Linked DNA regions of Homo sapiens: region 1 is linked to region 2. The links come from fine-mapping of genetic effects on gene expression. Tissue or cell type: skeletal muscle. Region 2 holds a variant in brackets; the other region holds the start of a gene. All regions are shown on one strand. Distances are between the middles of the regions.

What was found. PIP is the estimated chance that this variant, and not a neighbour inherited with it, causes the effect.
Region 1: it holds the start of SLC27A6, and the variant in region 2 is fine-mapped to the expression of SLC27A6 in skeletal muscle (FUSION, PIP 0.95).

The regions. Positions count from the first base shown.
Region 1 is chr5:128,961,695-128,969,802 of GRCh38, reverse strand. SLC27A6 (solute carrier family 27 member 6) reads right to left here and starts at 4,315. Exons shown (of 10, transcript NM_001017372.3): 1 at 3,185-4,315. The coding sequence starts at 3,665.
Region 2 is chr5:128,724,538-128,732,645 of GRCh38, reverse strand. It overlaps LOC105379168 (a long non-coding RNA gene), which reads right to left. Exons shown (of 7, transcript XR_001742460.1): 4 at 4,071-4,192. Among named protein-coding and RNA genes, the nearest start is that of FBN2, 190 kb to the right of the region's middle. The variant T/C (reference allele first, on the strand shown) is at 4,617.

The sequences.
Region 1 (8,108 bases), 240 kb before region 2:
AACATAGTGTTGGAAATTCTGGCCAGGGCAATCAGGCAGGAGAAAGAAATAAAAGGTATTCAATTAGGAAAAGAGGAAGTCAAATTGTCCCTGTTTGCAGATGACATGATTGTATATTTAGAGAACCCCAGCATCTCAGCCCAAAATCTCCTTAAGCTGATAAGCAACTTCAGCAGTCTCAGGACAGAAAATCAATGTGCAAAAATCACAAGCATTCCTTTACACCAAAAACAGACAAACAGAGAGCCAAATCATGAGTGATCTCCCATTCACAATTGCTACAAAGAGAATAAAATACCTAGGAATCCAACTTACAAGGGATGTGAAGGACCTCTTCAAGGAGAACTACAAACCACTGCTCAACGAAATAAAAAGAGGACACAAACAAATGGAAGAACATTCCATGCCCATGGATAGGAAGAATCAATATCATGAAAATGGCCATACTGCCCAAGGTAACTTATAGATTCAATGCCATCCCCATCAAGCTACCAATGACTTTCTTCACAGAATTGGAAAAAACTACTTTAAAGTTCATACGGAACCAAAAAAGAGCCTGCATTGCCAAGACAATCCTAAGCAAAAAGAGCAAAGCTGGAGGCATCACGATACCTGACTTCAAACTATACTACAGGGCTACAGCAACCAAAACAGCATGGTACTAGTACCAAAACAGAGATATAGACCAACGGAGCAGAACAGAGCCCTCAGAAATAATACCACACATCTACAGCCATCTGATCTTTGACAAACCTGACAAAAACAAGAAATGGGGAAACGATTCCCTATTTAATAAATGGTGCTGGGAAAACTGGCTAGCCATATGTAGAAAGCTGAAACTGGATACCTTCCTTACACCTTATACAAAATTTAATTCAAGATGGATTAAAGACTTAAATGTTAGACCTAAAACCATTAGAACCATAGAAGAAAATCTAGGCAATACCATTCAGGACATAGGCATGGGCAAGGACTTCATGTCTAAAACACCAAAAGCAATGGCAACAAAAGCCAAAATTGACAAATGGGATCTAATTAAACTAAAGAGCTTCTGTACAGCAAAAGAAACTGCCATCAGAGTGAACAGGCAACCTATAGAATGGGAGAAAATTTTTACAATCTACCCATCTGACAAATGGCTAATATCTAGAATCTACAAAGAACTTAAAGAAATTTACAAGAAAAAAATCAAACAACCCCATCAAAAAGTGGGCAAAGGATATGAACAGACACTTCTCCAAAGAAGACATTTATGTAGCCAACAGACACATGAAAAAATGCTCATCATCACTGGCCATCAGAGAAATGCAAATCAAAACCACAATGAGATACCATCTCACACCAGTTAGAATGGCGATCATTAAAAAGTCAGGAAACAATAGGTGCGGGAGAGGATGTGGAGAAATAGGAACACTTTGACACTGTTGGTGGGAGTGTAAATTAGTTCAACCATTGTGGAAGACGGTGTGGTGATTCCTCAAGGATCTAGAACTAGAAATACCATTTGACCCAGCCATCCCATTACCGGGTATATACCCAAAGGATTCTAAATCATGCCTCTATAAAGACACACACACATGTATGTTTATTGCGGCACTTTTCTCAATAGCAAAGACTTGGAGCCAACCCAAATGTCCATCAATGATAGACTTGATTAAGAAAATGAGGCACATATGCACCATGGAATACCATGCAGCCATAAAAAAGGATGAGTTCATGTCCTTTGTAGGGACATGGATGAAGCTGGAAACCATCATTCTGAGCAAACTATCACAAGGACAGAAAACCAAACACCACATGTTCTCACTCATAGGTGGGAACTGAAAAATGAGAATACTTGGACACAGGGTGGGGAACATCACACACCAGGGCCTGTCGTGGGGTGGGGGGAGTGGGGAGGGATAGCATTAGGAGGAATACCTAATGTAAATGATGAGTTAATGGGTGCAGCACACTAACATGGCACATGTATACATACATAACAAACCTGCACTTTGTGCACATGTACTCTAGAACTTAAAGTATAATAATAAAAAATAATAATAAATAAGAAAAAGTATACATTTGCCACTTTATCAGACCACAAGTTGAACTGAAAAGAACTAGGAACAGTGATAGCCTTGAAGGGCTAGCCCATTTTCCATATACTGCCTAACTCACTTTGGTTTGATATACAAATATTATATCATAAAGGTTATTTGAAAAGTTCTATACCTTAGAGATCACCAGGGTATAAATATATTTTTCCATATTGTTCTGTGAGTTTAAAAACTTTATACAAGGTATTGGTATGTATCTATTAATCTAAAATACTTAAATATTTTCATTATGGTCCTTGCAATGGATCTTCCTCTTTCCGCACCTTCCTTCCCCATTGAAGAAGACTCTGCATAAACCATTTAGATTACACCAAATAAGTATCATTTTTCATATTTCACTTCTATTTCATTAAGCAACCCATCTTCCTAGCTTCTTTACTAATTAGCCACTAAACCCCAGGCTTTTCTTTACAGTTCAGTGAAAATACGTGTAGCCTAAGATGTCCTAACTCCAAGGCAGGGGGAGGAGGAAGGGTAGAACTTAGTCAAAAAAAGAAAAGGATGCATGGAAGGATAAGAAGAAGAAACAGAAAGGCTCCTAGAGTCTGCCAAGAGCCCACGTTCTGGCTCACAGGTGGGAGCGCAACCTTGCTAGGCAAGTCCTAGCTTGCAGACAGTATAAAATAAGAGCAGACATGAAGAAAGGAATTCAGGTACCTTCCTTTAAACATATCTCTTCTGCAAATGTAGTCATCCCTGATAAAGTACAATTAGAGGTAGGTAGACGTGTCACAATGAAGTCAGATAACTTTCCTATTCACCATTTTGTCAGAGCTGATAAAATTTAGAAGTGACCAAGTTCTCTGTGTGTTCTTGCACTCACTGAAGGAACCAATAGCAGTAAAACTGTCCCTGTCTCAAAATGGTAGGAAGCAGAGATTTCATAAAAGTTTTCTGAAACTACGTGCCTGAAGGGAGGAGACAGTTGTTAAACCAGCATAGAATCATAAAACTATTTTGTACTCTTAACATGCACACTTCACTCACCCAAAATATTAGTTACGAATTATCCTAAAGAAAAAAAAAAGGGTATGAAAGCAGGTGGGCTGCCATTCTGTATAGGCAGACCACACCCCATACTCTACCTGCGCCCACCACTAGGGCTCTGGGCCCACAGGCGCGGATGCAATTCAGGAGGGAGTTGGAGCGAATGTTGGTGTTGAGAAAGGCCACCACGCAGCCCAGCTTGGCGAGGCCGAACCACACGTGAACGAAGTCCGGCTCATTGCTCATCAGCAGAGCCACCGTGTCCCCCTTTTTCAGAGAGGAATGGTTCAGGAAGACATGGGCCACTCTGCTGCTCCTTTTGTCTACATCCTGATAGGTGTAGATGTCTCCCTCATAGATGATGAAAGGTTTCCGAGGTTGTCTTTTGGCATGACTCAAGAATTTATCCAGCACAGTCACCAGCTCCCCTCTCTTTTCATACTTCTTCAGCCGAATTATAATGAGCACCACCTTCAACACGAACCAGAAGTCATCCCAAAAGTAAGGGAACAGGAGTTTCTGCAAGAAGTGCAGGACGACCATTCCAGCCCCTAGAACTGTTAGCCATGACAGAAGCATGGGGGCAACTGGGCCAGAAGACAGCTCTGATCTCAGCCCCCACCAGCGTCCTTCTCTTCCAGGCACAGCTCTCCACGGAGACCGCAGATCCTCACTACTCAGGGCTTACACCTGAAGTTCTTGTCAGCTTTTCCGGGGCGAAGCGGGATGGGGAGGAATCCTGAGAAACAGAATCGTAGGTTTGCACCGAAAAGGTCGCCCCAAGTGGTGCTGAAGATTAAGCTTGGGTCACTGGGCGGCTGGAAAGCAGGGAGCCTCCGACTCCTGCGAGAAACCAACACAGCCACCCTCAGGGGTCTTGGAATCTACAACCCCAGCGCTGCGCCCTCGCCTCCCAACCGCGACAGCGGCCCGTGCCCTGCGAGTTCCCCAGGACTTTCCAGACCTCTTCTCTGTGAGGGCTGAGTCAGTCCTCCCTGCTTCTGCGACCCTAAACAAACCTCACCACCCTCAGAAGAAGGTCCAGGGACAGAAGCTTTTCTCCTCTCAGGTAGTCTTTCCCGCGAGCTTGAGTTGGAGGCTGAATTCGAGCCGGGAAAAGCTGGGATGATGATGACTGAGAAGCGCAGCGATTTACAGTCTCTACGCACCAGAAACCGCGCAGGGGCTCAGCACCACGTCTCGGTCCGTGGCCTCAGGGCCAGCGGGTTCCAGGGTTCCTGAGCGCCGCCCCCGTCCTGCCCCGCCCAGCCCCGCCCAGTCCCTCTGACGCAACGGGTCCCGGAGAACTGCTCCTTGGTGACCCACGCGCCCGCTGGAAAGGGGTGCCCCTACCCCAGCCGCAGCTCGCACTCCGAGTGTCGTTAGGCTAGCCTAGTGTATTCTCCTCCGAAACATGGTGGGAGTGTTGCCTGCCCACCTTCGGCCTCCAGGCTCAGGGCTAACCACATCCCCTGGCGTGCCGCAGCCGGAACAGCCTGGGCCCCGCCGCCAGCTCCTCCCTGGGCGCGCGTCCGGCCACCTAGAGAAGTGTGGCGCGCCGACCTGCTCACACCCCAGGGAGGAGGCCCCGCGACTGGCGTCTCCGGCGGGGAAGAATGTGACAGTCCCGTGGGGGGAAACCCAGGGATCTGGAAGGCTTGGGGTCACAGGAGAACCAGAGTTGCTGGGATTGGGCGGCGCGGGGGCCCTGGCGAGGCTGATAAGGTATAACAGTGTCGCACAAAGGTCATCCATTGAACCAATTAATAACTAGAAAATGGAAAGAAAAGAACAAACATCAAAAAAACTGCAGGGAGAGAGAGGCAGGGAGGGAGGAAGAGAGGGCAGGAATATTTATGAACTGGACAGATCCAATAATATTTTGTAAGAAAGAAAGGAATATTTGGACACCACAAAATTGTACTGTTCTTTACAAAAAGTATTTTTGAAAACATGTTGATAGGTTGGTTTTTACATTTATATTAGAACTCTATCGTTAGAGAGCTAAGACAGTGCGTTTTACAAAATTTGGCAACAATATTGATTGATTTGAGAGCTTCAGTCGATATTCGTATTTAAAAATAAAAACAAAGTTTATAATGCTATTTGCAGTCCTTAAAAGTAACAAGATCCCCCCTCCCTGAGACAGATCATTTAAAGAATTATGTCTTCAAACTAAGGATTCTAAAGGGAGTGGGGAGGTGGAGTGGAGAAGTAACAAGTTAGTGGAATGGTTAATAAAATTTTATACGAAGATGAAATTTTACTAAAGATCAAAAAACTAAAGAACATTTCATTACACTTTTTTTTTTTAGCAGACACCATCATCCCAGCTGTCTGCTTTTAAGTGAGTATAAATGGTTAATTGCTTGTGTTAAAATAGTTAAGGAAGGCCTCACCTTGTTAGGTGTTTCTCCCTTCTGCCTCATGTTCTGCAGATGGATTCTGGCTAACCTCAGATTCTGTAATAAAAGAAAAACTGATAATTCCAAAGACGAGCTCCAGTTTATTAATCTGAAAATGATTACTTTGAAGTCACAGTGAAGAGCTCTTAAAGCCAAAGGAACATAGGCTCTTAAAGCCCTTTTCTGTAAATGACAAAAAAATGCTTTCTAAATTTACTCAGAAGCTTTGATCTTTTCGATTCAGAAATATCTTTTTAATTAAGAAAATAGTATCAAGTAGTTTATAACTTAAAACATTAGTTTACAACTTGAAAAGCATCTTTGACATTCTATTGTTTTCTCTTCTAGCTTTAGTCTAATTAAGTCACCTCCAAATAACAACATTTAACGAACACAAAAGAATATGGAGCAGTTGGTCTCAGACTTTTGTAGTTTTAATGAGTAAAATCTGTCCTTCTCCAGTGGAAAAAATAATACAGAAAGATAGGCGTGGCATTTCTTTTATTTTGCTGCACTTATTTTTCTTATCATGGACATTCTAATACCATCCTAAGGCATGGAACTAAATTTTTAGCAACTACAGATACAATGAATCTAGAATATATTCAGCACCATAAATGTGAGCTTGTTTGACTTATTAGGAAGAACTACAAGTAAGCATATGTTGGGCCAGACTTTGTACTAACCCAAACCAATTTTATGCCTGAAATCTCACCATGGAAGACATAATCAATGAAAAATCTTGGGACAGTTAACAGTATTGTGTATATTCCTATATTAGCCCATGTACCTGTTTCTATTTTGTCCAGAAATTTTGCATTCACTTTCAAATGCTACCAAAGGCAGCTAAGTAAAATAGATACAATTTTTAGCTACAATAGTTTAAGAATTTTGAAATGGGAGAAATATAGCAAGAGTTAGTTGCAAGTGAGTAAATCTATCATTTAACTAAAATAAAGAGAAATAAACACATAGAAATAGTCTAGACATTCCTGCTAACATTACTTTTGACTAGGAATAGTGTAATATTTCTCTGCTTCTCCTTTAAAAAACATAAAGACTGTTTGTTTTTCTTTAATGTTATTTGAAAATAAAAATATTGTGACTAAATGAAAATCAATGCCCCAAAAAAGTTTATTTTTAATCTACATGTGGTCTCTTCAACCTCTTCTTCATTTCTGATTTGACTTTCCTCTTTAACCCACTACCAACCACCTTTGCACCCTCAGTTCTATAGAGGATGAATTGTTTAGTGAGTAGATCAAAGTAAGACTGAACAAATAGCAATATATGACAGACATGGAGCCTACAGGATTTTGCCACTGTAACCTAAGAATTCTGACTCTTTGCTGTCAAATCACTTGTCTTCATAAGTCTTCTGATGGAATTCTATAGCAGTCATCATTTGGATTATGGGAGGTTTGAGTGAAAACCAAGAAATTTAGAAAGATGCCAAACAATGCTGGGTTGGTGGCTAAACATCATGATGAGTGCTTGCAATGGGCCAAGAAGCTCTGACTATCTAGACGGCAGCCGGGGCTTGGGAAAGGGAATGGCAGTGAAGTGACTGAGGGAGTTGGATGGCTCTAAAAATGAATGGGAGAATGCTGGATGCAGGAGTCATCCACTTTACAATTCTACCTGGGAACAGGGTTTTTAATTATTGCTTTTAGGATCTGATAATAACTTCGGTTATCATGGGAAGCTTACTCTTCCTATAATCTAATGTTTATTTGTATTAATGAATAATCATTGCCCAGAATAGTATTCGACACAAGGACTCATGAAGCAAACCGAACATTAAAAATAAGAGGCGTGCACGGAGCCTCGCTTACTGATAACACAGCAGTCTGAGATCCAACTGCAAGGCAGCAGCGAGGCTGGGGGAGGGGCATCCTCCATTGCTGAGGCTTGAATAGGTAAACAAAGTGGCCAGGAAGCTCAAACTAGATGGAGCCCACCTCAGTTCAACCAGGCCTGCCTGCCTCTGTAGACTCCACCCCTGGGGGCAGGGCATAGCTGAACAAAAGGCAGCAGACACTTCTGCAGACTTAAATGTCCCCTTCTGACAGCTTTGAAGAGAGTAGTGGTTCTACCAGCACAGAGTTTGAGATCTGAGAATGGACAGACTGCCTCCTCAAATGGGTCCCTGACCCCGAGTAGCCTAACTGGGAGGCAACTCCCAGTAGGGGCCGACTGACACCTCATCCAGCCGGGTGCACCTCTGAGATGAAGTTTCCAGGGAAGGATCAGGCAGCAACAATGGCCATTCTGCAATATTTTCTGTTCAGCAGCCTCTGCTGGTGATACTCAGGCAAACAGGGTCTGGAGTGGACCTCCAGCAAACTCCAACAGACCTGCAGCTGAGGGTCCTGACTGTTAGAAGGAATACTAACAAACGGAAAGGACATCCACACCAAAACCCCATCTGTACATCACCATCATCAAAGACCGAAGGTAGATAAAACCACAAAGATGGGGGGAACCAGAGCAGAAAAGCTGAAAATTCTAAAAATCAGAGCGCCTCTTCTCCTCCAAAGGAACGCAGCTACTCACCAGCAATGGAACAAAGCTGGACGGGGAATGACTTTGACGAGTTGAGAGAAGAAGGCTTCAG
Region 2 (8,108 bases):
AGATCCTGAACTAACCTGTAAGGCTTGTCTGGTTTTAGGACAGGTGAAATGGGGGAATTGTAAGGAGGGTTTATAGGCTTTAAAAGGCCATGCTGTAACAGGCGAGTGATAACAGGCTTTAATTCTTTTAAAGCGTGCTATAGGGTGGGATATTGGCGATGTCGAGCGTGGTAAGGGTGATTAGGTTTTAATGGGATGGTAAGGGGTGCACGATTGGTTGCCAAGGAGGGAGTAGAGGTGTCCTATACTTGTGGATTAAGGTGGGGAGATACAAGGGGAGGATGTGAAGGAGGCTTTGAACTGGGGAAAAGGGCAGCAATGAGGTGTGGCTGTAGCCTAGGAATAGTCAGGGAAGCAGATAATTTAGTTAAAATGTCTCAGCCTAATAAGGGAACTGGGCAGGTGGGGATAACTAAAAAGGAGTGCATAAAAGAATACTGTCCAAGTTGGCACCAGAGTTGGGGAGTTTTAAGAGGTTTAGAAGCCTGGCCATCAATACACACAACAGTTATGGAGGCAAGGGAAACAGCCCCTGGAAAAGAAGGTAATTTGGAGTGGGTAGGTTCCATATTGATTAAGAAGGGGATGGACTTATCCTCCACTGTTAAGAGTTACCCAAAGCGTCTGTGATGGTCCAGGAGGATTCCGAAGCAATCAGGCAGAGTCAGTCTTCAGCCGCTAAGCCGAGAAGATCTGGGAAGGAGTCAGAGCCTTGGGCCAGTTGGACAGTCCAATTTCCAGTGGGATCCCACACAGATGGGACATGGCTTAGGAGGAATCCTGGGCTGCAGGCATCCCTTGGCCCAGTGGCCAGATTTCTGGCACTTGAAGCAAGATCCTGGGGGAGGAAGTCCTGAAGGAACACCTGACCGCTGTGGTTTAGGCATTTTGAAGTTCTTTTGTGCTGGAGATGTGGCTGGGGTTTCTCTCACAGCAGAGACAAGTAATTGCAACTCTTCTCTATTATTGCACATCTTGAAGTCGAGGTTAATTAAGTCCTGTTGTGGGGTTTGAGGGCCAGAATTTAATTTTTGGACCTTTATTTAATGTTGAGAGCAGATTGGGTAATAAAATGCATATTGAGAATAAGACGGCCTTCTGACCCTTCAGGGTCTAGGGCTGTAAAGTGTCTAAGGGTTGTTGCCAAACGGGCCATGAACTGGGCTGGATTTTCATATTTGATGAAAAAGAGCCTAAACGCTAACTGATTTGGGAGAGTTCGGATAAAGAAAAAGGAGTATTAACCTTGACTATGCCTTTAGCTCCAGCCACTTCTTTAAGAGGAAATTGTTGGGCAGGTGTCCTCACTCAAGTTCAAGTACATTAGAAACATTCTTATCCTGAGGCACAGGTTTTTAAAAATAGTTGCATAAAATTGTTGATATCGAAAAGTGTCTGTTTATATCCTTTGCCCACTTTTTGATGGTGTTGTTTGTTTTTTTTCTGGTAAATTTGCTTAAGTACCTTGTAAATTCTGGATAATAGACCTTTGTCAGATGGGTAGATTGCAAAAATTTTCTCCCATTCTGTAGGTTGCCTTTTCATTCTGATGATAGTTTCTTTTGCTGTGCAGAAGCTCTTTAATTAGATCCAATTTGTCAATTTTAGCTTTTGTTGCAATTGCTTTTGGCAATTTCTTCATAAAATCTTTGCCCATGCCTGTATCCTGAATGGTATTGCCTAGGTTTTTTTCTACGGTTTTTATGATTTGGGGTTTTATATTTAAGTCTTTAAGTCCATCTTGAGTTAATTTTTGTATGAGGTGTAAAGAAGGCATCCAGTTTAAGTTTTCTGCCTATGTCCAATTTTCCCAGCACCATTTATTAAAAATAGGGAGTCCTTTCCATATTGCTTGTTTTTGTCAGGTTTGTCAAAGATCAGATGGTTGCAGATGTGTGGCATTATTTCTGAGGCCTCTGTTCTGTTCCATTGGTCTATATATCTGTTTTGGTACCAGTACCATGCTGTTTTGGTTACTGTAGCCTTATAGTATAGTTTGAAGTCAGGTAGCATGATGCCTCCAGCTTTGTTCTTTTTGCTTAGAATTGTCTTGGCTATACAGCCTCTTTTTTGGTTCCATATGAATTTCAAAGTAGTTTTTTCTAATTCTGTGAAGAATGTCAATGGTAGTTTGATGGGAATAGCATTGAATCTATAAATTAATTTGGGCAGTATGGCCATTTCCATGATATTGATTCTTCCTATCCATGAGCATGGAATGTTTTTCATTTCTTTGTGTCCTCTCTTATTTCTTTGAGCAGTGGTTTATAGTTCTTTTTGAAGAGGTCCTTCACACCCCTTGTTAGCTGTATTCCTAGGTATTTTATTCTCTTTGTAACAATTGTGAATGGGAGGTCACTCATGATTTGGCTCTCTGCTTGCCTATTGTTGGTGTATAGGAATGCTTGTGATTTTTGGACGTTGATTTTGCCGAAGTTGCATGATGTCATCTGCAAACAGACAATTTGACTTCCTCTCTTCCTATTTGAGTACTCTTTATTTCTGTCTCTTGCCTGATTGCCCTGGCCAGCACTTCCAATACTATATTGAATAGAAGGGGTAAGAGAGGGCATCCTTGTCTTATGCTGCTTTTCAAAGGGAATGCTTCCAGCTTTTGCCCATTTTGTATGATATTGGCTGTGGTTTTGTCATAAATAGCTCTTATTATTTTAATATTGTGGGTTTGTCATAAATAGCTCTTATTATTTTGATTATTTCAATACCTAGTTTATTGAGAGTTCTTAACATGAAGAAATGTTGAATTTTACTGGAGGCCTTTTCTGTATCTATTGAGATGATTGTGTGGTTTTTGTCATTGGTCCTGTTTATGTGATGGATTATGTTTATTGATTTGTGTATGTTGAACCAGCCTTGCATCCCAGGGATGAACCCGAATTGATTGTGATGGATGTGCTTTTTAATGTGCTGCTAGATTTGGTTTGCCAGGATTTTATTGAGGATTTTCACATTGATGTTCATCAGGAATATTGTCCTGAAGTTTTCTTTTTTTGTTGTGTGTCTGCCAGGTTTTGGTATCAGGATGATACTGGCCTCATAAAATGAATTAGGGAGGAATCCCCCCTTTTCAGTTGTTTGGAATAGTTTCAGAAGAAATGGTACCAGCTCCCCTTTGTACCTCTGGTAGAAGTCGGCTGTGACTCCGTCTGGTCATGGGCTTTTTTTTGGTTCGTAGGCTATTTATTACTGCCTCAATTTCAGAACTCGTTATTGTTCTACTCAGAGATTTGAATGGCAATTATTAAAAACTCAAAAAACAACAGATACTGGCAAGACTGTGGAGAAATAGAAACACTTTTACACTGTTGGTGGGAATGTGAATTGGTTCAACCATTGTGGAAGACAGTGTGGCAATTCTGCAAGGATCTAGAACCAGAAATGCCATTTAATCCAGCAATCCCATTACTGGGCATATACCCAAAGGAATATAAATAATTCTATTATAAATATACATGCACACATATGTTTATTGCAGCACTATTTACAATAGAAAAGACATGGAACCAACCCAAATGCCCACCAATGATAGACTGCATAAAGAAAATGTGATACATATACACCATGGACTACTATGAAGCCATAAAAAGGAATGAGATCGTTTCCTTTGCAGGGACATGGATGAAGCTGGAAGCCATTATCCTCAGCCAAGTTACACAGGAACAGAAAACCAAACACCTGATGTTCTCACTCATAAGTGTGAGTTGAACAATGGGAACACATGGACACAGGGAGGGGAACAACACACACTGGGGCCTATTGGGAGGGGAGCAAGAGGAGGGAGAGCATCAGGGCAAATAGCTAACGCATGTGGGGCTTGAAACCTAGGTGATGGGTTGATAGGTGCAGCAAACCATCATGGCACACGTATAACTATGTAACAAACCTGCACATTCTGCACATGTATCCTGGAACTTAAAGTAAAATAATAATAAAAAAAGAAAAAATGTTCATATTGAATCTTTCCAATGTGGCACACAGTGTGCTACTCACAAATTTCCACTCCCCAACTTGTGTGTGGAAAGCTGTGTCCAAGAAAACAGGTGAAGACTTACATTTGCCAGTTCTCTTGGTATTCCCATTTTATGGCTTTTGTGGGAATGCAGTTCATGCTTGTCTGCTATTTTATTTAATTTGCCTCCTTGTAAATTCCAGCTGTTGACCATGTAATTAATCCCTGTATGGAAAAAATATTGGCGTTTATTTCTGCAATACATACGCTTCATCCCAATAGGAGAATATATTCATCATAGTCCTTTTCATTATTCTACAGTTGTTCCTCGAAACCATTTTACATACCACACAATTAATATACACTGGGACTCTGCTCCCAACTTCTGCATTAGAACTATGGCTTTCATTTGTTCTTCTTCATTTTTAATTTCTGAACTCTAGGGTTTTAAGTAAAGAGAATCTTTTGTATTACTCCTAGAAAAGACTACTACTTAACTTATCAACTTATTGTAGAATGTGGTAACTAGAATGAGTACGGTGGATAGATCTTAGTAACATAACTGTAGCTGATACCAGAGACAGTCTTTGACATTTATCTTTGGCCACAATTTTCTCTTACTAGGTCCTTTTTTTTCTTTTTTTTTTTT[T/C]TTTTTTTTGCTTTCTATGCTACCTTTTGCCTCTTTTCAGTTGTTCAGTCTTTGTAGTCTCTTCTTTCTACAGATGTCTTAAAACTTGTTTTTCTCTATTACACAAAAGTAAAAATGGCTGATAATTTTAAGTACCATCCTCACTGGGCTATTTGCCTTTTGATTGGGACCAAGGCTTTATGATAACAAGAAAGTTCATCTGCTTTTGTTCAGAAGGTGACTGGACAAAGCTCTAGAAAGCCAACCTGTTCCTGGCATGTCATCTTATACTTAGTTCTTATACTATACATATACAAGGCCATCTTGGTTCACTATGACATGATTTCTGGGATAAAGATAACACCTACATTGTTGGTTTTGACTTGATGACAAAGTAAACCCTTAGACATTCTCAAAAGTTTAAGTTTGGTTAAAGAAATTGATGAAAGATCATCAGCTTGTAACAATGTCTGAAAATCATTTTTATTTAAGCCCAGAGAAGAAAAAGCTAATTTTAAAAAAATTATTACTATCTGGAAATTTACCCTGATCGGAAAATATATGTACTAATGAAGAACAGCTGTGTTGTGGGCAAAATTATGAAAGCAAATTGCATGGTTGACTGGTTATTTCTTTTTAAGACAGAAATCAAGAAGACATATTGCTGACCCAAATGTGGATGGACTTTAATATGTATTTGTTATATATAAAGTTAAAGCCTGCTTTATAAAAGGTTACAGTTATTTATCAACTTACATCTATTGTCAAATAGAAAAGAATTTGGAGTGAATATAAATGCTTAATTTGAAGAAAAAGTAGAAAATTGTAGGAAGAAATCCTCCTGAGTGCAAAATTTTAAGGAGAAAGATGTTGTTGAAAATGTCTAAAGGATTTTCTAATTTGTCATTTTCTCTAAGATATTTTAAGGTCCACAGACTGTTAGCCATACCACAAACACATAAAAGGGAGCCAGAATCAGGGTAAAAATAAATGAATTTCTTCAACTAATATTATTTGATAATTTACCCTAATTTAAGTTGTAGGTGGTGTAAAAGTAAACTAATGTGGAATGTGTTCTAAAGGATTCTGCTTGGGTAGGGAAGAAAATATGAATATAAATGATTTAATAAAAGATAATGAATCTATTAATTATATTCACTTTAGTGTATATCTTATGGATAAAATAGTTTTATTATCATCATCAAAAGATCGAACCCTTTATTAGTGTGGTTTTAGAGAACTAGTCAGAAATATACACATAAATCTCAATATGTGTTAAAGACTATTCTTCTGACACTGTTACAGCATCTTTGTTTTTGTGTTATGAACTGTTTTACTTTTTCAGATTGAAATAGAACTAAAATTTTTAAAAACCTTTTCTTTCAAAAATATGACTGTAAAATTTAAATTATAATAATACATTTTATATTCTGAAAACAAGTTAGTGCAGATTTAGAAATTGGACATCTAGAAGGCAGCTTTATTACAAAATCTATCCCAAAGTTCATGTCATCTTTACAGAAACCTATCAATATCCTCACTGCAGTGAATGCGTGACCATGGGACAGAAGGCAGGCTTAAGCAAGGCATTTGGTGTACGGGGTTTTGCAAGGTTTATTCAACTAAGATGTGTTTGCATGTTTTTGTGATATGGTTTGGCTGTGTCCCCACCCAAATCTTATCTTGAATTGTTGCTCTCATAATTCTCACATGTGTGGAAAGGACCCGGGGGGAGATAATTGAATCACGGGGGTGATTTCTCCTGTACTATTCTTGTGGTAGTACGTCTCAAGACATCTGATGGCTTTATAAGGAGAAATCCCTTTTGCATAGCTCTCGTTCTCTCTGTTCCCTGCTTTTTGCCTTCCACCATGATTGTGAGGCATGTAAGACATGCCTTTTGCCTTCCACCATGATTGTGAGGCCACTCCAGCCATGTGGAACTGTGAGTTTATTAAATCTCTTTTTCTTTATAAATTACTCAGTTTCATGTATGTCTATATCAGCAGCATGAAAACAGACTAATACAGTAAATTGGTACCAGTAGAGTGGGGATGCTGCTGTAAAGATACCCAATAATGTTGAAGCAGCTTTGGAACTGGATAACAGGCAGAGGTTGGAACACTTTGGAGGGCTCAGAAGAATACAGAAACATGTGGGAAAGTTTGGAGACTTGTTGAATGGCTTTGACCAAAATGCTGATAATGATATGGACAATGAAATCCAGGCTGAGGTGGTCTCAGATGGAGATGAGGACCTTGTTGGGAACTGGAATAAAGGTGAGTCTTGCTGTGTTTTAGCAAAGAGACTGATGGCATTTTGCCCCTGCTCTAGAGATTTGTGGAACTTTGAACTTGAGAGAGATGATTTAGTGTATCTGGTAGAAGATTCTGTTCTCATGGTAGTGGATAACTCTCACAAGATCTGATGGTTTCGTAAGAGGGTTCCCCTTTCACTTGGCTCTCATTCTTTCTGTTCCCTGCCACCATGTAAATATGCCTTTTGCCTTCTGCCATGATTATGAGGCCTCCCCAGCCACGTGGAATTGTGAATTCATGAAACCTCTTTTTCTTTATAAATTACCTAGTCTCATGTATGTCTTTATCAGCAGCACGAAAACAGACTAATACAGTATGCAAACTATTTAAGTATGTCTCCTGCACACTGCTGCCTATTGAATTTGAACGTAAATTCAATATTGAATTTATATATTCAATAAATATAAGAAGATATATTTATTATTTATATTTATGTCTCTCTTCTCAAATCTCAGAGAGAATTACAGCCCCATAGCCCCATAATCATGGTTTCTACAAACAAACAGTAGAAATGGAATCCATTCTCCAGGCTTACTCTTACTCCCACACACACAATATTTCTTATTTTACAGCATCTGGGTTAAGAGTTACTTAAATAGGAGTTTATTTACTTTTTTGTTTGTTTATTTGCTTTAGAGACAGGTTCTTGCTTTGTTGTCCATGCTGAAGTGCAGTGGTGCAATCACGGTTCACTGTAACCTCAAACTGCTGGGCTCAGTGATCCTCCTGCCTCAGCCTCCTGAGACTAAAGATGTGTACCACCAGGCCAGGATAATATTTTTTTAATTCTTTAGAAGAGACAGGGTCTTACCATGTTGCCCAGGCTGGTCTTGAACTCCTGGTCTCAACTGATCCTCCCACCTTAGCCACCCAAAGTGCTGTGATTACAGGTAGGGTTTTTTTTACTTTTATGTAAATCTGAAAAAAGCAACCTTCCCTTTTTAAAAAGAAAAAAAGTATTTTCTTTACTGCAAATTAATAATTCTGGTCATGGGAAGTGTCTACCTTACTCTGGACCTTCACTTTTATAGTGATTTAGTTGAATCTTCTGTTGACCCACAAGCACTAGCTCCAGGACTAATGCTCCTGAGAATTGGGCAGAAGGAAGACATGAGCACCCAGATGACCTCTAGAGCAACATCATTTGCTCACTTTCCCTACAGCAGCCATTGCTTCCTTTGCCTGTAAGCAGTCT